Linked DNA regions of Homo sapiens. The protein of the gene in region 1 interacts with the protein of each later gene in a pairwise test. Each region holds a gene or a part of one and is shown on either strand. Other genes may lie near its edges.

The links.
Region 2: the proteins of TSPAN4 (region 1) and NOTCH2NLA interact in binary tests that used the Homo sapiens proteins (3 or more experiments, as listed by UniProt).
Region 3: the proteins of TSPAN4 (region 1) and LRRC25 interact in binary tests that used the Homo sapiens proteins (3 or more experiments, as listed by UniProt).

Annotation. Positions count from the first base shown.
Region 1 is NC_000011.10:859,851-866,875, forward strand, and holds part of TSPAN4 (tetraspanin-4), read left to right. Parts: intron 1-2,699; coding exon 2,700-2,891; intron 2,892-4,586; coding exon 4,587-4,661; intron 4,662-5,662; coding exon 5,663-5,764; intron 5,765-5,843; coding exon 5,844-5,975; intron 5,976-6,067; coding exon 6,068-6,151; intron 6,152-6,711; coding exon 6,712-6,780; 3' UTR 6,781-7,025. UniProt on the Homo sapiens protein: Structural component of specialized membrane microdomains known as tetraspanin-enriched microdomains (TERMs), which act as platforms for receptor clustering and signaling.
Region 2 is NC_000001.11:146,149,007-146,156,031, forward strand, and holds part of NOTCH2NLA (notch homolog 2 N-terminal-like protein A), read right to left. Parts: 3' UTR 1-7,025.
Region 3 is NC_000019.10:18,394,608-18,401,879, forward strand, and holds the start of LRRC25 (leucine-rich repeat-containing protein 25 precursor), read right to left. Parts: upstream 3,016-7,272; 5' UTR 2,357-3,015; coding exon 1,578-2,356; intron 1-1,577. UniProt on the Homo sapiens protein: Plays a role in the inhibition of RLR-mediated type I interferon signaling pathway by targeting RIGI for autophagic degradation.

The DNA.
Region 1 (7,025 bases):
TCCTATTGGCTCCCTGCAGCCACGAGGGGCTGTGTGGTCAGAGCCAGCAAGTCAGCCCCTGCCTCGGTACTCCCAATCCTGGGGCCCAGAGCACAGGGGTGACCCCTCTTCCTGCACCCAGTCTGTCCAGCTCCCCTGTGCGCTGTGCCTGGCCTGCTGGGGAGGGGCTCTGGGCGTGGGTGTCAGAGCTCAGCAGGCACCAGGAGCCAATGGCTCAGCAGAGCTTCCCAAGATAGGTCCTGCGCTGGCAGCCTCCGGACAGCGTTCTGTTTTGAACTTTAAGCGGAGATGCTACCTCTGGAAGGCCGGGGAAGGACAGAGCCTGCCTTCTCCCCAGGATGGCCTGAGCGTGTGTGGGACTTGTGGGGCCCCAGCAGTGGGGGGAATCTGCTCTGAGGGGATTTTACCCTGTGGAGCCCAGAGGGACCGAAGACACCAGTGACAGGCCTGGCCTGAATCTTGGGGCACCAGCAGCCATGCTGGCCCTTGGGCAGGGAGCTGTGTCCCATCTCCCCAGCACAGCCTCCTGCCTGCCAGCCAGCCAGTAAAAGGGTGGCGGCCTCCAACCTCCAGCCTGGCGCTGGCTGATGCACTGCTCAGGGAGGGGCAGGTGAGCGTGCACACGAGGAGGGGGCATCTCCCACCCCCAGGCCCCCTGAGGCAAGAGTGTTGGGGCTCATGGGCCCTCCGTGGGCCCTGCCAGGGTGGAGGCCCCAGGCCTGTCTTGAGCTGGGCTGGTGTTGCAGGTGGGGGTGGGGCGGCTGCTGGTGGCCAGCAGCTATCCCAGCCTTGGTTTCTGTCTGGAAAGTGGGGTGTGAGTCTGGCCACTGGGGCTTGGGAGGCTTTTATGGGGTGACTTGGGGCTTCTGGTAGTCCCCCGGGAACCCCCAGAGCCTGGGGTCTGAGCCTGTCCTCAGGCATGTGGTCTGGGTGCTCCAAGGGGTTTCATCAGGTTGAGGGGTGGCTTTGCCAGCCCATTCCCAAGTCCTGTCCAGTCCAGGGTGGGGCAGGGATCCCCCAGGGCTGCGCGGCCCTTCCCCAGAACCAGTCAACCGTCGGCACCCCAGGACGTCTACCCACCACCCACCTGGGCACCCACGCTGCAGACCGGGAGCTGGTCAGCATTTTCGGGGGACTGCTTGTCCCGTGCCCAGGCCTGGAACATATCTCCCGTCTCATCCTGAAACGGCCCAAGCCCGAGGCCTCTGTCTGAAGGTGGGGTCCTGGCGGACCCCTGCTTCCCTTGAGGCCTTGCTGGGCCAGCAGCCTAGCACCCTCTCTCTGGGCGCAGCACCCCCTCGTCTCCCCCTGCCTCTTCCTGTTTTAATTGATTTTTATAAGAACAAGCACTTAGGAAACACAGTAAGAGCTCTGGCGGTTACAGACACTGCAGGAGGTGGCCCTCCGGGTGGCAGGTGCTCCTGTGGGACCCGCCTGCTTTGTTCCCACCAGTGCCCATGTGGCTGTAAGAAATCATAACTTGGCCGGGCGCGGTGGCTCATGCCTGTAATCTCAGCACTTTGGGAGGCCGAGACGGGCTGATCATGAGGTCAGGAGATTGAGATCAAGACCATCCTGGCGGCTGGGCGTGGTGGCTCACGCCTGGAATCCCAGCACTTTGGGAGGTCGAGGTGGGTGGATCACGAGGTTGGGAGATCAAGACCATCCTGGCTAACACGGTGAAACCCTGTCTCTACTAAAAGTACAAAAAATTAGCTGGGCGTGGTGGCGGGCGCCTGTAGTCCCAGCTACTCGGGAGGCTGAGGCAGGAGAATGGCGTGAACCCGGGAGGCGGAGGTTGCAGTGAGCCGAGATCGCGCCACTGCACTCCAGCCTGGGTGACAGTGCGAGACTCGGTATCAAAAAAAAAACAAAAAAGACTATTGTGGCTAAACCATCTCTACTAAAAATACAAAAAATTAACCGGGTGTGGTGGGGGCATGCCTGTAATCCCAGCTACTTGGGAGGCTGAGGCAGGAGAATCACTTGAACCTGGGAGGCGGAGGAGGTTGCAGTGAGCCCAGATGGTGCCACTGCACTCCAGCCTGAGCAACAGGGTGAGACTCCATCTCCAAAAAAAGAAAAAAAGAAAGAAATCATAACCAGGAGCAGAGTGTGAGGGAATCAGCGTTTCTCCTGCCACGAGTGACAGGGGACAGCTGGGGACATCACAGAGATCTTGTCGGGAGCTGGGAATCGGAATCCTGGGACCACCTGCCAGGAAGCCCCATCCCGGAGTGAGGGCAGGGCTGGGTCTCCCTGACAGCACAGTCTGGAAAGGCTGGAGTGGCCTGTCAGGTGGGGAGTGAGCCTTCTGCCCTGCGCAGACCAGACGGTGAAGCGGGGTTAGGGGTGTGCAGACTGCGTCCTGGGGCCTAAGATCCCGTCCCTTTGGCTCCAGGCCAGGGGTTGGGCGGATCCCTCCTAGAGGGAGTGGTTCAGAGGCACAAGGGAGCCTCCCCGACTGTGGCCATGGAGTGTGGGTTTGGGGATGGGGTGCCAGCCCAGGGTGTCGGGAAAGACTGGCCTGCCCTGGACACCCCCCCGGGCTGCCGTGGGATCTAGCAGGACTCTGGGTGGTTCTGGCTCAGGCTGGCAGGCGGCATGGCTTTGGGCTTGTGGGCCGGGCTCTGCCCTGGGGTCCAGAGCTTGCATTGGGGCCTCACCCTGTCTGTGTCTCTCCTGTTGCTGTGCCCCAGCTGGGAGGCTGTGGCGTGCTGGGTGTCGGCATCTGGCTGGCCGCCACACAGGGGAGCTTCGCCACGCTGTCCTCTTCCTTCCCGTCCCTGTCGGCTGCCAACTTGCTCATCATCACCGGCGCCTTTGTCATGGCCATCGGCTTCGTGGGCTGCCTGGGTGCCATCAAGGAGAACAAGTGCCTCCTGCTCACTGTGAGTGCCGGGGCCCAAGCGATGCTCCGGGTGGGACCACGCAGGGTGGGGCTCCGGTGGCCCCCAGGCCTTGGCTGCCGCAGTGACCCCCCAGACGTGGGCACCACCTCTGGGGCCGGACCTCCAGGCTGGCAGTGTGGCCCGGGGCCCTGGCCACTGTTGGGTCTTCCAGGCCACACTGGGGCTGGGGGGTGATTTGCAGAGCGGTGTGGGGGTCACTCAAGAGAACGTGCTGTACCTTGTCAGGGGCCTCCCCTGACGGGACACTGGCCCTGGTGAGTGCAGGCACAGCCCCGCACACACGTACACACGCATGCGCAGCCTTTCACGGGCTTGCGGTCTCCGTGACTCATTCCTGACCACCCCACCCCCACTGTGGCCCCTTCCCCAGCTTCTTGTTGGGGGCCTGGTCTCTCAGCTCCCTGGGACCGGCTGCTGGGACGATCCCAGCCCCCACCTCGCCTCGGGGATGGACTTACAGGCAGGGATATGTTTATCCTCCTTAGAAATGTTAATCACAGATAATTAAAAAGGAAAAGGGCTCCTAGATGGAAACACAGGCTTGCTACTGATTAACATGCCTGGCCGAGGCCGTGGGCCCTGCGGAGGGTGTGCAGCCTGCTGAGGTCCTAAATCACGAGGCTTCCGATCACTCCTTTGTCTGGGAAGCCCTGGATGGGTTGGGGCCTCCCTTAGGTCGCCTCAGCCAGTCCACTCCCCTCCGTACCCCTTCCTGGGGGCAAGCCCCAAGTCTATCAGCCTCCCTGGCATCAGGTTGGGGCCCAGAGACCCCTGGAGGCAGTCGGTGGGGGTCTGTGGCAGCCCTACTGGGGCTTGGAGCTCCTCAGTTGAGGAAGCTGCTGTGTGTGGGCCCCACCAGGCCTGCAGGGACCGAAGCCCAACCCCCTTTCCCATGGGTGACTTGGGACCAGAACCCTGGGTACCTCCTGGGGGTGAAGGACTCCTGTGTCCTTAGCCCAGCACCCTGTCTGCCCCACTCACGCCCACTCTGCCTGGGCCCCCCAGCTCCTGGACACATGCTGTCCATGCCTGCCCTCCTCTTTTGTGGGTGTCACTGACCCCCGCATGGAGGAGCAGCAGGGCTGGGGTCAGGCTGAGCTTTGGGGCTGCCGCCAGGCGGGGGAAGCTTGCATGGTCAGAGGTGGGGCTTGCAGCCTGTGGTCTTGCTGGAGGGGGCATCAGCCACGCTGGCTGCCCTGAGGACTGTGACGTGTGGGCAGAAGGGGCCTCTGCAGCCCAGCTGTGGCCCCTGCTGGGACATCTTCCCACCATGAAGACAGGCACCCAGCGAGGCACCTGCCAGACACTCAGAGGCCCCTGGATGGAGGTGTCCTGAAGGCAGCTGACAGGGGCTGGGGCCTCAGGAACAGGGATTTGTGCCCACTTGGGGGTGTCTGGGTTGCCCCAGGGATGGGGGCAGGGGAGGGGAGCCCAGGCCAGCCCAGGGCCCCACACTCAGGGGCTGAGCAGGACACAACAGCCACAGTCCCTGGACCTGGGGCCAAGGGTTCTGAGGTGGGGGCGGCGTTCTGGGCTCTCTGGGAGTGGGGGCCTGGCAGAGGTTTCCTGGCAGCACCAGGTATCCATGAGGTACGTGGCCCTGGCCCCTGGCATGCTGTGGGGCGGAGGCTGTGCGGCCTTTCGGGTCCCTGTCTGAGCCTGCCCCCTCCACAGTTCTTCCTGCTGCTGCTGCTGGTGTTCCTGCTGGAGGCCACCATCGCCATCCTCTTCTTCGCCTACACGGACAAGGTACGGCTGCCTTGGCCGCAGGCCCAACTGCAGGGCTGGGGGCTCCATCCTCACTCCCAGGGAGCACTGTGGGCCCGGTGTGGACAGAGTGGCCCTGCATGTGCCCTCACGGGCAGCCAGGACAGCGGGTGTGGATTTACCAGGCCTGGAGGGGCAGCGCCAGCGACCCTGGGAGGCTGTGCTGTGGCTCTATAGCGACTGGGGCACAAGGGCACTGCTACCCCACCCGGAGGGTGCGCCCCAGGTTGTCCCCCGCCCTCTGACGCAGCGTCCTGAGCCGTCTGCTCCCAGCGCCCCATCCGGGCCGCGCACCGTGGGGTTCTCCTCTGTAGAGCGGCCTCTTCTTGGTCACTCACTCATATATTCAGCCATTTGTTTATACTGGGATGAAGTCCTGGCTATTGAGGTTGCACTCCGAGCTAGAACACACTACTTTGTTTTGTGAATCACACTGTCCGTCCTTGGCCCTGGGGAGCTTCTGCCGTCTGCTGCTGGGTCCCCTGACGTGCCCCCATCAACAGACTTTTCATTTTGGGGCACGTCCTGACTTCCTGGCACTGCAGGGCGCTCCAGGCTCCTTCATTCCCTGCCCTGGCCCAGGAATCAGCCCCTTCTCCAGGGTGCTCTGGGTCCTCACTGAATATTGGGGACCGAGGCCAGGGTGCTGGGTGGGCTCAGCGCTCATAGCCCCTGGCTTTCAGCTCACAGAGCATGGCTGCACGTGTCCCGATACGTGGAGGCACCTGTGTCCCTGTCCTCTGTCCCCCCAGGACCCATGGTCCTCCCCCAGCCTGGGGAGGAAGCCCAGAGGTGGGGGCCCTGGGCCTCAGGGCTGCTGGGAGGACATGGGGCCGGTGTGTCTGCAGCTTGGTGGGCTAGGAGGCGCGGGGGACACAAGACCAGGCGCAGGAGGGGCCCAGCTTAGGGGCCGGCGAGGGGGTCTGGATGAGGGAGGCGGGGTACAGTGGGAGGGGCCCTGCTGACCCCCCCCGCACCCCCAGATTGACAGGTATGCCCAGCAAGACCTGAAGAAAGGCTTGCACCTGTACGGCACGCAGGGCAACGTGGGCCTCACCAACGCCTGGAGCATCATCCAGACCGACGTGAGGCGTGGGCAGGTGGGCGGGGTCGGCGGGTGCCCCCTCCCCTCCTGCCTCAGCCCGACCTGAGCTTGCCCCCCAGTTCCGCTGCTGTGGCGTCTCCAACTACACTGACTGGTTCGAGGTGTACAACGCCACGCGGGTACCTGACTCCTGCTGCTTGGAGTTCAGTGAGAGCTGTGGGCTGCACGCCCCCGGCACCTGGTGGAAGGCGGTGAGTGAGACCCCCACCCTGGGGGCTGGTAGGGGCCTAGAGGGCGGGACCAGCAGGCCCTGCCGTGACACGCATGACATCCCTCCCTGCAGCCGTGCTACGAGACGGTGAAGGTGTGGCTTCAGGAGAACCTGCTGGCTGTGGGCATCTTTGGGCTGTGCACGGCGCTGGTGCAGGTATGGCCTGGGGGCCTGCGGGCTCCCTGCCCCCACTTTGTTAGGACCTTCTGAGCCCAGGGAACAAAGTAGCAAAGACCTTGCCCCCAGGAACCCACGATCGGGGGAGGCCGGGGCAAAAGCAGGAGGGCGAGTTCAGGGGGATGGGCAGGGACGGCCTGTGGGGACAGTGGGCTCCCTCTTAGTGGACAGAGGCAGAGGCTGGTGTGGGGTGGAGGCCGGTGGTCGTCCATGTTGGTCGGTGGCCCAGGACTGGCCAGTGCACAGAGGGTGGCAGCTGGGGCCCTGGTGCCAGTGGCCCCTGGTTTCCAAACTCCACAGCCCTCAGGAAGTTCTGGGTGTCCTCATGCCTGCAAGGCTCAGGGGAGGGTGCTGTGGCTCGAGCCACAGGGGTTGGGTGGGGCGTGCAAGCCACCAGGAAGCTGAAGGGCTCTGCCACTGTGTCGCCCACCCTGGGGTCGGGGTCAGGGCCAGGGCACCTGCTGAGGACAGGGACTGCTCTGGGCTTGAGGCCTGAGCCTGTGGAGCTGCCATGCCCAGTCCTCCTCCCCTACCTACAGATCCTGGGCCTGACCTTCGCCATGACCATGTACTGCCAAGTGGTCAAGGCAGACACCTACTGCGCGTAGGCCGCCCACCGCCCGCTTCTCTGCCAAAAGGACGCCCACGGGGAGATGGCCGCACCCACAGCTGCCTTTCCCACCACCAGCCTCGGTGCTCTGCCCCATGCTGGGAGGAGGGAGGGAGGGACAGGTGCCTGGAGCCCCCGGAACCCTGTTTCTGGAAGGCCCTAGCTCAGGTGGCTTCAGGGCCTCCGGACCCCCCCTGGGAGGGGTGGCCACGTGCTGGCTGCGGAACCCAGGGCAGGGGTGGG
Region 2 (7,025 bases), on another chromosome or scaffold:
TTCCAGAATATTTTCATAATGCCAAAAAGCATGCCTGTACCTATGGGCAGTCACTCTCCAATTCCCCACTTCTTACAGTCTCTGACAACCACTAATCTACTTTCTCTATATATAGATGTACTTGTTCTGGGCACTTAATTCAACAAATGGTCCTGGGACAACTAAATATCCACATGTAAAAGAATCAAGTTAGACTCCCTCCTCGCACATAAAAATTAACTCAAAATGGATCAGAGACCTAAAGGTAGGTGGTAAAATTATAAATCACTTAGAAATAGTAAATCTTTGTAATGTGGGATAAGCAAAGTTTTCACAAATATGACTGAAAGCACAAGCAACAAAAGAAAAAATAAATTGTATTCCATCAAGTTAAAAACATTTGGGCTGAAAAGTATATCATCAAGAATGTGAAAAGACAGTACATAGAATGACAGAAAATATCTGCAAATCATATTATCTGATAAGAGACTTGTATTTAGGATATATTTTTTAAAAACTATTACAGTTCAATATTAAAAAGATAAACCAATTATAAAGTAGGTAAAGGATCTGAACAGACATTCTCCAAAGAAGATACATAATGACTAATAAGTATATGAAAAGATGTTGAAAATCATCAACCATCAGGGAAATGTAAATCAAAACCACAATGAGATAAACACTTCACATTACAGATGAATATAATAAAAAAGACAGACAATAACAACTGTTGATGAGGATGTGGAGAAACTGGAATTCTCATACACTGCTGGTTGGAATGTAAAATAATGTACCCACTTCAGAACAGTCTGACAGTTCCTGAAAAGGTTAAACAGCATTACCATCTGACGCAGCAATTCTGCTCCTAGGTATATATCCAAGAAATATGAAGATAAATGTCTACCAAAAAATTATACAAGAATGTTCATAACAGAATTATTGATAATACTCAAAAAGTAGAAGCAACTCAAATGTCAATCAACTGATGATGGATAAATAAAATGATAAAATGTGGTAAATCCATATGATAAAATATTATTCAGCCATAAAAAGGCACAGAGTACTGACAAATGCTACCACATCAATGAACTTTGAAAACCTCATGCTAAGTGAAAGAAGCTGTCATAAATTACTACATGCTGCATGTTTCCATTTGTATGAAATGTCCAGAAGAGGCATTTCTGGAACAGAAACTTTACCCAATTGCAGTCCATATGTTTTCTGGGATCCCGGAGTTCCCTTTCAACAATGTAAAATACAAACTTAGGTCAAAAGTTCCCATGTCTGAGAAAACTCAAGCCAAATCAGTTCTCCTCCAAAGTTGACAGGATTTATGCTTTAAAAATACAGATACAGAATTCTCTTTGGAAAGATCTACCAAATTCCTGTAAGAAACAGTCTACCCAAAGTAGGGGAAAGGCTATATGAAAAGTTACAAGGCACTTCTTAAAAATATATCTTAGGTTTTTAGGGAAAGGTAAACAGACAAGTTTCCAGACCCGTGGGTGGAATGGATGTAGCAGATTCACTGAGAGGCTCACAGCACCGTACTAAAGGGAGTCTACTGCTTAAAGCCAATTCACATCCTTAAAAGGTCAAATGGAGAGAAATTAAACTTGGGAGAAGCATTTTAAGACTGTGCTGTTATAAAACCTCGGGCCACTTAACTGATTAATCATGGCAATGAGGGCAGGGACCAGAAAAGAGTCTTTAGAACCTGTCATCCCCACACAGAAGAGCAACTTTCAGGGAAACACCCTTATCTTTCCATTTTCAGACCCCGGGAGGTGTGAGGGTGGAAAGGCTAGGTAGAGAAGAGAGCAGAAAGGAGATGAGATGACACAACCAGGATTCTCCGAAGCTGGGCTTGAAGTCCTCAAGAAAAACTCCCATGAACAAGGAAGGAAGAGTGAAGAAAAAAACAGGGATACCTGGAACTGGACAAAAGTAAAAAGATAGAAGGATACTTTTTTTCCCCCAGAAGAAGTCTGTCACAAAAGCAAACCTGCAAATATACGATCAGTATAACACCCAAGAAAATGACACATGCGGCCAGGCATGGTGGCTCATGCCTGGAATCCCAGCACTTTGAGAAGCCGAGGCAGGTGGATCACCTGAGATCAGGAGTTCGAGGCCAACCTGACCAACATGGTGAAACCCCATCTCTACTAAAAATACAAAAATTAGCTGAGCATGGTGGCAGGCACCTGTAGTCCCAGCTACTTGGAAGGCTGAGACATGAGAATAGCTTGAACCCGGGAGGTGGAGGTTGCAGTGAGCCGAGATAGCACCATTGCACTCCAGCCTGGGAGAAAGAGCGATGCTCCGTCTCAAAAAAAAAAAAAAAAAAAAAGAAAAGAAAAGAAAATGACACATGCCCCCAAGTGTGAGAATGCAAGAGGGAATCCCTGACCTATCCCTATCCAACCAGTTTTCTTGGCACACACCTTCCATTCTCTGAATGAGCCCAGATTAACTCACTGACCCCTGTGCCACGTATCTCCCACTCCATCACCCGCCCAGGCTCACTGCTTCCACCTGCGTCCCTTCATATCTCCCTACTGACCTCCACTTTTTTCTAACTTTGTCATCAAAGAAGTCACAGAAATAAATAGGAGGATTCAAAAAGAATAATTTCAGTACATTTAAAAAATTGTAGAATATAGGATTCTCATCTATGTTTATCACGTTCATTCATTTTTCAAATTTTCATTGTGGCACCATTTTATGACAGGCACTATGCTGGGGATGCTGGCGACTAGGGTAGGGAGTTAAAATGAGAGTGTCTACTTGGAAAGATGAACAGATAAATAATCACCGTGATAAGTGCTGTGCTAGAGATATGCAGATGTCAAAAGACCTTAGAAGGTCTACAATCCACTTGGAGGGTAGGGAATATAGAAGGCATTTCAGTGAAATAGGGTGCCTTTGACAAATCATTAAGAATGAGTTCTACATTAAAAAGGGGAAGAGAGGGTGATAGCTGAGGAGGCAGCATAGGCAAGAACATCCAGCATGAAAGAACAGTGAAGGACATCAGGAACATCTTTCAGGAACATCAGGTAAAACAGACTTAGGGCCCAAGTCAAAGGAGCTAAAATAATACACCCTGGAAAGTGGTATGATCATTTCTGCATCTGCTCCAGAGAAACCTGCCAAAATATGATTAGCATAATACCCAAGAGAACATCACATTCCCCATGTGTGAAAATGCAAGAGGGAGTTATTTCTAATAGTTCATAAGCTCAGCAACAACAGAGTAGACACAAAAGCCATAGAATGTGCTTAGGCTTTACTTTAATGATATAGGGATATCACATATCATCAGCCTGTGGAGTACAGAGGTAGTTTACAAAGGATAAACCTTCATTGTTTGGAAAGGAAAGATCAGAGAGCTCTTTATGAAGTTTAAACAAAATCAGAGAAATAAAGAGATGTGGGAAAGAAAGAAAAAAAAGAAAGTACATTGAGGACAGTCCAATCTAACTGTGAACTCATAAGGGACAGCCAGTAAATTCAAAACAGCCTACTGTTTTTTGATTACTTGTGCTACTCTATTAAAATAGCCACAAACACAAAACTAGTCTACCTCTTTCTCTCCCCATTATTGGCCCTAACCCAAAAATAGTGGGAGTAAATGATTTAATAATTTATTTTCATGCTCCATTTTGTTCTTAAGTTAAAATTACTGTGGTTGGTGCCCCTCCTTTAGCTTCTGCTAAAGACTTTACATAATGAAAGCTCATGAAGTGTCTGGATTACTAACAGTTACTTATCCAAAAAGATGAGACATGGTTCATTGATTTGATTCTATTAGTTCTCTCTTGAAGATATTTTTCTCCTCCCTCTGTGAAGAAACATTTCTTTCTGTGTCATACAAGAGGAGTCATTTTTGTAGTTTTAATTCCCTCTTGAGTCCTACAATAATACTAAAATACTCACAGTGACTACAGTATCCTTTGCAGGGAAAAAATTGTAAATTAACCATTTAAATATAGTCACTAAGTTATGTGGCATTCACTGACTCAGAGTTGAAAAAGACTCCAAAATTCTTATCCAGTATTAGAGTATACAAGGACAAAAGGAGAGGCCAAACTAAGTCTAGGACGCACAATACAAAGAAGAAAATGAGAAGACCAAAGTTACAGTCTCAATACTATGACATGATACTAAACCATACAGTCAGTCAGCCAATATATATTTGTGGGCCTAGTATATACTGGGCACTGTTTGTAGGTGTTTGGGTTACATCAGTAAACAAAAACAAAGATACTAGTTTTCATTCTGGAGAGGGTAAGAGGCAGTAGAATTTGGAAAAGACAGACAATGAACAATAGACATAATGAAGTAAATTATATAGTATAAATTATATAGTAAGAAGATAAGAGTTACAGAAAAAGAAAACAAAAAGTAGACCAGGGTTAGTAATTAAGGGGGTGGGGGACAGTTACAATTTTAAATAGGGTGGTTAGAGTAACCCTCAATTAGAAGTGCCAAGACGTGAAATGCAGTGGAAGCAACCATTTGAAAGTTGCAGAATACTTTAACAAGCTACTTTGCCTCCTGCTGACTTTGTTTCCCCATTTTTAGAACTGAAATAATAATTCTCATCAAATAAGGGTGCTATTTACATTGAGATAGTGACTATTACTATAAGTAACATTTTAGTCTCTTGACAAGCATGGGAAGCAATGGAATGAAGGGCAATGGAAGGAAGGGCACTGCATTATGAAAAGGACTTTTTAAAAGAAAACCATCTCCAGGCACTATTCCCCTTTGTGGAAATGAAGAGAATATTTTCTGAACTCCACCTGGGACATATGAACAATGAGCATGAAATCTTACAAACTGTATAAATAACATTTATTCACAGTGTCACTGCATCATCTATTGTTTTGAATTCTCTTTAAATTTCCTTCTATATATTTATCCAAAGCTGAAGTCATCTGGTTTAGATTATGGGACCCTGAAAAGCAAGAACTAGTCTATGTAACTACTTTTAAACATCTGCACAACGCCATACACACACACACACACACACACACACACACACACACACACACACACACACACATATTGATATGTAACAAGTACTATTTGATTATAATTAGGAGTGTCTTGGTTTTCTTATAACATGAACATATATTTTTAACCCAAACAGCTTAAAGCATTTAACGAAAAGTTTTACACACCTACAAAGTGCTTTCAGGAAGCAGATGTGCAGTGCAATGTGGCGCAGTAAGATGCACAAAGCAAAGGCTTTGAAAATAAACTGCCTCGGTTTCAGGACCCAGCCTAACCACATATTAGCTGTACAACTTTGGGTGAATCACTTAACATCTCCAAACTTCAGTTACTTCATGTGGGAAGACTTGAAAAATAATACCTGGTCCCAAGATTTTTGTGTAATTGAGCTAATAAGCATGGAAGTACCTGGCACAGTTCCTGAGTCACCAAAAAAATGTTAGTTTTCTCTTCATCGAATCTCCCCATTCCCACCCCTCATGCTAATCTCCCCTCCCACACACACACACACCATCAGTGAGTAAATAAGTGTCTTGCGTTAAACTACAACCAGAGAATAAGAGACAGCCAAGATTTCCTTACTCTATTTCACTAGCCCTGGCAGCCTCTCAGCTGCGGAATCCTTGGTTATTTCCTTTCTCAAGGAGGAGATACTATTCTAGTTTGACAGATCCTTTCCTGGACACACTCTCAGAATTCCCTAAGGTTCTTATCGTGGCTAATGGATAACAATGCAGAGGCTATGGGAGTGAATAATCACTCTCTCTCAGCTAAAAACTTCCTTTATTGACTTCTCTAACTTCCCGTCAACATCTTGCTGCCAAATCAACCTCTTGTTCTAGGCAATTATTAAAAGCAATTTTCTTGAAACTGAAAAACACATTTAGCCTTCAACAATAAATCACACTAACATCAATTACTAGCCAATTAGATTACTAGAATATCAGACCCAGAGATATTTGCAGTGTTGAAATATTTTCAAAATAAAGTTGTTTACATTTCTATTTCTGTCTTTAATCCTTAAAATGCAAACAAATACAGGAGTGAAGACAGATGTATTTTAGTTATTTCTTCTACAAGATAAAGTGGATAGTAATATTATGTTAAGAAAATACTTATTTAGTATCTAGAATGATAGCATTATCTATTCTTTATTAAAAGAGAAACTAAAAGTAATATAATTAAATAGCTTGTTCTTGTGACTTAAATAATATAAAATTTTCATTTCAATTATGTGACAATGCTTTGTATAGCTGTATTCCAAATACATAGCATGGTGCCTAGAACATAGCAGGCAGTCAATACATTTTTACCAAATGAAATGAATAAATTACCAGTTGATTTTATACTGAGGACCAAACTATGACCTTTAATCCCTCCAAAATAAAACACACAATCCCATTATATGTGAACCATATCCACAATACCAGAATCTAAGATTCCCACTCTGAAAGAGTAACTAGAACAACTTCTTTTTGAGGCAATTCTGCTTACTTAGCACATTACTCCCCCCTACAGTTTTCCTTCTTTTGTTTTTGTACTAAGGATATTTGTATAAAAACAGGATCTTTGTTGCTTAGTAATTCATCTGATTCAGCTGCTTGTATTCTGTTCCCAATCAAAATTCTTGGTTTTCAGCCTCCTCATCATTTTTATAAGGAGTTGAATGAATTGGTCAAGCTTGTTCCTTTCTCCCTCTCCATGGAACACCAGGCCCCAAGCTCCCCGACACTGCTCCTCTTTTTATTTCTATCTTTGGGTTGTGTGTACACTCTAGAACACTTGTATCAGTGAAGAGTGTAACAAAGTATTGTGCCACGCATAGTCTCTCATATATCATCTATCAGCTCATCAAAAAGTGCTCACTGATTAACAGAGGATCCCCTCCTCAGTTTCAGAATTCTCTAGCTTTAAGTTAGGGGAGGGTTACCCCAAAGTCAGAGAGGGTACATGGGAGAGGGTTGTGAAGGCCAGTAGCCCAGAGAAAATCAAGGGCAGCTGGGTGCATTTAGGTGGATAAG
Region 3 (7,272 bases), on another chromosome or scaffold:
TTTTTGTATTTTTTAGTAGAAACAGGGTTCCACCATGTTGGTCAGGCTGGTCTTGAGGTCCTGACCACAGGTGATCTGACCTCGCCTTGGCCTCGAAAAGTGCTGGGATTATAGGCATGAGCCACCGCACCCCACACCAACCTAGAAAAGTTCAACTCATTTGTCTAAGCCCAGCAAAATCATCCAGAAGCCGGTGGCGGTGGCTCACACCCATAATGCCAGCACTTTGGGAGGCTAAGACATGAGGATCACTTGAGGCCAAGAGTTTGAGACCAGCCTGAGAAATATAGCAAGACCCCCGTCTCTATGAAAAATACAAAAATTAGTTGGGTGCGGCGGCATGTGCCTGTGGTCCCAACTACTCTGGAGACTGAGGCAGGAGGATCACTTGAGGCCAGGAGCTTGAGGCTGCAGTGATCTGTGATGGTGCCACTGCACTCCAGCCAGGGCGACAGAATGACACTGTCTCAAAAAAAAATGTCGGCTGGGCGCGGTGGCTCACACCTGTAATCCCAGCACTTAAGGAGGCTGAGGTGGGCGGATCACGAGGTCAGGAGATCGAGACCATCCTGGCTAACACGGTGAAACCCCGTCTCTACTAAAAATACAAAAAATTAGCCTGGCGTGGTGGCGGGCGCCTGTAGTCCCAGCTACTCGGGAGGCTGAGGCAGGAGAATGGCATGAACCCGGGAGGCGGAGCTGGCAGTGAGCCGAGATCGTGTCACTACACTCTAGCCTGGATGACAGGGCCAGACTCCATCTCAAAAAAAAAAAAAAAAAAATCATCTAGTGGTGATGGGACTTTGTAGGGCACCTCTTTAGTATCTCATGTGTGTCATGGGGAAATGGGGGGCTGTCCCCACTCTATGGAGACAGAAATGGAGGTTCAGAGACAGCCTTGGGTCACATGGGACCTGGGCCTATGCTGCTGACCGCCACCGCGGAGCCCCAACTCCGCTCAAGCAGTTGCCTCCTGTCTCCCCATCCTTGGCCGCCAGAAACTGGGTTTACAGGTCATAAGGGGGGGAAGTTTGTCCCATATATGGGAACTCACTTAATTCTTACCCCAACACACTATGATGGGGGCTGTAATTCTCCCTCATTTTACTTTATTTTATTGATTTTATTTTTGAGATGGAGTCTCACTCTGTCACCCAGGCTGGAGTGCAATGGCATGAACTTGGCTCACTGCAACCTCTGACTCCCAGGTTCAAGAGATTCTCTTGCCTCAGCCTCCTCAGTAGCTGGAACCACAGGCGCCCGCCACCACACCTGGCTAATTTTTGTATTTTTAGTACAGACTGGGTTTCACCGTGTTGGCCAGGCTGGTCTCAAACTCCTGACTTCAAGTGATCCGCCTGCCTTGGCCTCCCAAAGTGCTAGGATTACAGGTGTGAGCCACCATGTCCAGTCCTCTCCCCATTTTATAGGTGAGGAGACTGAGGCTCAGAGAAGTAAAGCTACTCACCTAAGATCCCACAGCCTTCAAGCGGCAGAGCTGGGATTTGAACCTCGGCCATCTGGGTGTGGAGCCTTATTATTCACCACTTTGGCAGGTGTCTCAGTGGCTTACTTACCCTTGTTCATCCCACTGGTGCTCGGCTGCTGGCTGGCCCACAAACATGTTCTCATAGTCGGGAGTGGAGGGGCAGGATGGCACGGCCACTTGGGGCTTGGGGGCGCTCCGGCTGCCGTACCGTGGCTGCAAGCCTAAACCGGGCTTGGGCCCATCCTGAGCAGCCCAGGGTTTGTTCAGCTCCCGGCTTCTGGCCACTCGGCATCGCCAGAGTCTCCAGGCCAGCACAGGGCCAGCGATGGCAAGTCCAAGAAGCAGGCACCCGCTGACCACCACTGCCCCGATAGTTGCAGAGGCCAGGCCAGGGGCGCAGCTGACCTCCAGGAAGGCAGAGAGGTTGTGCTGGGAGCTGGTTGTGTCCCAGCAGAGCAGAGGCTTCTGGCCAGAGCAGTTGTCTCGGCGGATGTCGTGCCAGGACTCCAGGGCACAGTTGCAGTCGGCCTGCAGGTCAAGGTCACAGCGGGCGGCCAGCGCCCCATCCACACGAGACAAGGGGTTGCGTAGCACGTTCAGGACCTCAAGCTTCTGCAGGTGGGCAAAGAAGGTCACTGGAAGCTCTCGCAGGCCGTTCCCAGACAGGTCAAGGAGAATCACGTTGCTGGCCCGCAGAGACTGGTTGTGAGGCAGGCTCAGGCTGAGGCCACTGAAATTCAGGCACGTGGCACTGAACTCCGCGTTCCAGTCCACATCCGCGGAGGACACGGTGCACGACGGTTCTAGGCTGTCTGACTCCCGCAGCAGCAGCGGCAACAGCAGCGTCCATGCCAGGGTGCCCCCCATTCAAGCAACCTACGTAGAGACACCGGAATCCTAGCCCTGACCTCAGCCCTGTGGTCGCCCTCGCCTCCACCGCCAGTGTTTATTATTATAGCTCAGACCAGCTCAAGCCGCTTCTGAAATGGTAAAACGCAGCCCCAGTCTGGTCGCCTCCTTTGGCTGGTGGGCTGCCTCAGTCTCCCCTTCTGGGGAATGGGTAGATAACCCCAGTGCTTAGCGGGCTTGGAAGGCGAGGAGGAGATCCGGGCCAGTTAACCCCTTCTTCTATGTCCTGAACATTTGGGGCGCCCTCGTTGGCCAGGACGGGACCCTATGCAAATAAGCGGTTGCCTTGGAAACGGCCCCGCCCCCTGATCACGCTCCCGGTATCTCCCAGAACGGCGGGTCGCTGGGAAGTCCTGGGATAGGGTGGAGTGGGGGCTGCTGAAAGGGTCCTCCCAGGTCTGGTTTGCAGTCCCTGCACAGGTGCAAGTTCTAGAGCCTCAGTCCTACCTTTTGGGTCCCACTGCCACGCTTTTGCCTCTGCGATGCTGGAAAAGCGACGGCGCCCAGAGGCTGCGTCCTGGCCCACCTGGACACGGGGGCCGCAGCGGCCACGGCCAGCACCGTCCGCAGCGCTGCTGGGGTCGCTGGCGTTCCTCTGGCTCTGCACCCAGCGACTCAGGGGGAAGAGGAACTGGTGTCTGGGTGGAGTGCAGAGGGGAAGAATGAAGACAGAGATCCGCCCCCTTGCAGGGCCTCAAGGTTCTCACCAGAGGTGGATGGAGGGCAAGAGGGAGGGGTGGACCAGAGTCCCGCTTCCCTCTTGCTAGAACCCAGTGACTTCATGTCCTCTATTAGCACCCCAACCGACTGCCACCTCATCAACTCGCTTCTTGATCTCAGCTTGGCTGGTTCCCAGCTCATGCAGTCATTTATTCATTCAACAAGCATCACCCACGCTGGGCCCCCAAGAGGCCTCAGCCCTGACCAGGTCCTCAAGGAGCTATCTTAAGAGAGGACAGAGCTGGACATAGACACTCCTAGTCCCATGCAGTTAAGGAAGGTCCAGAGGGAAAGACAGGGTCCTGGAAGGCTTCCTGGAGGAGGAGGCATTACAGTTGGGGCTTCAACGCATGAGTAGGAGTTCACTAAGATTCCCCAAACCTATCATTGGCTCTCCAAGCTCCTCCAAGCCTCTCCCACTGAGTTCTTGCACAGTGGCACCTCTATGCTGGAGGGGACAGTGAGGAGGGCTCCCAGCAGCTTGGGAAAATGTAGCTGGCTGGGATAGCATGGTTAGGAGTGGAGAGGATAGAAGGAATTGGTGGTGGGGGAAGAGGTCCATGTGGAGCCAAGGCAGGTGCGTGGGCAGAGGGGCACTGGCTCAAGAAGTCCCTCTGGAGTGAGCCTGGTGTCTGGGGTGGGCAACTTGGGGAGGAGGCTGAGGTCCCAGAAGCAGATGGGGGCCTGAGGCAGACTGGAGGGGTAGTAGTGACAAAAATGATACTGAGGAGGGGTGGGCTGGGAGAAGGCCTCACCTGAACCTGGTGTCAGGTGGACCAGGTACAACCTATGCCAGCCCGACTCACTGTGCCACCTTAACTGCGTGTGACACCATGTCCACAGCTGTCAAATGCACAGAGGCTTCTCCGGGATCTGGGAGGCTGGGAGTCCACTCCCCCACGTTTTCCCCTCTTTTCGGCCTCTGTCCTTCACATCGCCAAACTCCAAGAAATGGTCAAAGGCTTTGAACGGAGACCTTGAAGAAAAAGCGGGAAACTGCTTTTCAACATGTCCAGAGATGCTCATTCTTGCCAGGTGCAGTGGCTTACACCTGTAATCCCAACACTTTGGGAGGCTGAAGTGAGCAGATCGCTTGAGCCCAGGAGTTCGAGACCAGCCTGGCCATCATGGTGAAACCCCGTCTCTACTTTAAAAAATACAAAAATTAGCCAGGTGTGGTGGTATGTGCCTGTAGTCCCAGCTACTCAGGAGGCTGAGGCAGGAGAATTGTTTGAACCCAGGAGGTGGAGGCTGCAGTGAGCCAAGATCACTCCACTGCATTCCAGCCTGGGCAACAGAGTGAGACCTGTCTCAAAAAAAAAAAAAAGTTCACACTTAATAAGAAAACTGCAAATCACAAACTGTTTGTCTTCACCAATCAAATTGGCAAAAATCCAACAATGCAATGACATTCTGTGCCAGCCAGGCTGTGGGGTGCGTCCATGGTGTAGCACTGGTGGAGGGCACCCTGGCACAGGCCACCGGAATGATAAACTCATGTGCCTGCTGACACAGCAAGTCCACTTCTGGGAATCCCTGCCTGAATATTTGCATGTTTACAGTGTGAACTGACTAACGAATAAAAAAATGTGGCTCAGCCTGGACGTGGTGGCTCATGCCTGTAATCCCAGCACTTTGGGGGACCAAGGTGGGCGGATCACGAGGTCAGGAGTACCAGACCAGCCTGGCCAACATGGTGAAACCCCGTCTCCACTAAAAATACAAAAATTAGCTGGGCATGGTGGCACGTGCCTGTAATCCCAGCTACTAGGGAGGCTGAGGCAGGAGAATCGCTTGAACCCAGGAGGCAGAGGTTGCAGTGAGCTGAGATCATGCCACTGCACTCCAGTTTGGGCGTTAGAGCGAGACTCCATCTCAATAATAATAATAATAATAATAATAATAATAATTTAAAAATTAGCTGGGCATGGTGGCTTCAGCCTGTAGTCCCAGCTACTTCAGAGGCTGAGGTGGGAGGATCCCTTGAGCCCAGAAGGTTGTGACTGCAGTGAGCCGTGATTGTGCCACTCCACTCCAGCCTATGCAGCAGAGCAAGACCCTATCTCTAAAAAATAATTTAAAATAAATGGCTGGGCCGGCCGCGGTGGCTCATGCCTGTAATCCCAGCACTTTGGGAGGCTGAGGTGGGCGGATCACCTGAGGTCCAGAGTTTGAGACTAGCCTGACCAACGTGGAGAAACTCCATCTCTACTAAATACACAAAATTAGCCGGGTGTGGTGGCGCATGCCTGTAATCCCAGCTACTTGGGAGGCTGAGGCAGGAGAATCACTTGAGCCTGGGAGGTAGAGTTTGCAGTTGAGCCGAGATCACGGCACTGCACTCCAGCCTGGGCAACAAGAGCAAAACTCCATCTCAAAATAATAATAATAAATAAATAAATTGGCTAAAATGTTCAATTTTATGTTGTGTGTATGTTGCAGGTTTGTTTTTTTGAGAAGGCAAAGTCAGGCGTGGTGGCTCACACCTGTAATCCCAGCACTTTGGGAGGCTGAGGTGGGCGGATCACAAGGTCAGGAGACTGAGACAATCCTGGCCAACGCTGTGAAACCCTGTCTCTACCAAAAATACAAAAAATTAGCTGGGCGTGGTGGCATGTACCTGTAATCCCAGCTACTCGGGAGGCTGAGGCAGGAAAATCACTTGAACCAGGGAGTTGGAGGTTGCAGTAAGCCTAGATCGCGCCACAGCACTCCAGCCTGGTGACAGAGCGAGACTTCATATAAAAAAAAAAAAGAGAGAGAGAGAGAAGGCAAAAAGATGCTCCAGGCTCAAAGTGATTCATTGCAGCATTGTTTGTTACATGAAAAAAAATAAAATGGGCCGGGCACAGTGAGTCATGCCTGTAATCCCAGCACTTTGGGAGGTCAAGATAGGAGGATCGCTTGAGCCCAGGAGTTCAAGACTAGCCTGGGCAATATGGTGAAACCCCATGTCTACCAAAAAAAAAAATTTTTATATATATATATAGATAGATATACACACACACAAAAATTAGCTGGGAGTGGTGGCACATCCTTACAGTTCCAGCTACTCGGGAACCTAAGGCAGGAGGATCGCTTGAGTCTGGAAGGCAGAGGTTGAAGTGAGCTGAAATCGTGCCACTGCACTCCAGCCTGGGGTGACAGAGTGCAGAGTGATCCTCTGCCTCAAGAAGAAGGAAAAAAAAAAAAAGGAAATAACTTAAAGGATTGGTTACATTAGTAACAGTTCAGTTCATCCATCCTAGCATGCCACAAAGTTCTGAAAATGAAATTATAAATCTCTATGAACCTATAAGGAAAGACTCATTCATTTCCTCTGTAAGCCTTTATGAAGTTCCTGTTGTATACCAGGTACTATGAACCACAGACACAGCAGTGAATAAAACAGACAAAAATCCCAGCCCCCCCTCCCCCCACCTCTCACTGTAGTTGGGGAAACAGACAACAGGCAGAATCCATCGGGAAAATATATCAAGTGCAGGTGGTGGGAATGCTGCAAAGAAAAATAAGGGCAGGAAATGAGATGGGAAACTTTTATTTATTTATTTATTTATTTATTTATTTATTTATTTATTTGAAACGGAGTTTTGCTCTTGTTGCCCAGGCTGGAGTGCAGTGATGCGATCTCGGCTCACTGCAACCTCCACCTCCCGGGTTCAAGCGATTCTCCTGCCTCAGCCTCCCAAGTAGCTGGGATTACAGGCGCATGGGACCATGCCCAGTTAACTTTTTGTATTTTTAGTAGAGACGGGGTTTCACCATGTTGGCCAGGCTGGTCCCGAATTCCTGACCTCAGGTGATCCACCCTCCTCAGCCTCCCAGAGTGTTGGGATTACAGGCGTGAGCCACTGAGCCTGGCCGCAGAAGCAACTTTTCAATGGGATGATCAAGGAACCCCTTAGGGAGTAAGGAGGAAGGGATGTGGGGAACAGCATCCAGGAGTGGGAACAGCATGTGCAAAGGCCCTGTGGTGGGAGCAGCCCTGGGTAGAGAGCAGATGTCTCCAAATGTTTGTTCAGGCTGCTATAACAAATATGCCGTAAACTGGGGTAGCTTATGAACAACAGTTCCGGAAGCTGGGAAGTCCAAGATCAAGGCACCAGCAGATTCACTTCCTAGTTTGCAGATGACCGTCTTCTCACTGTGTCCTC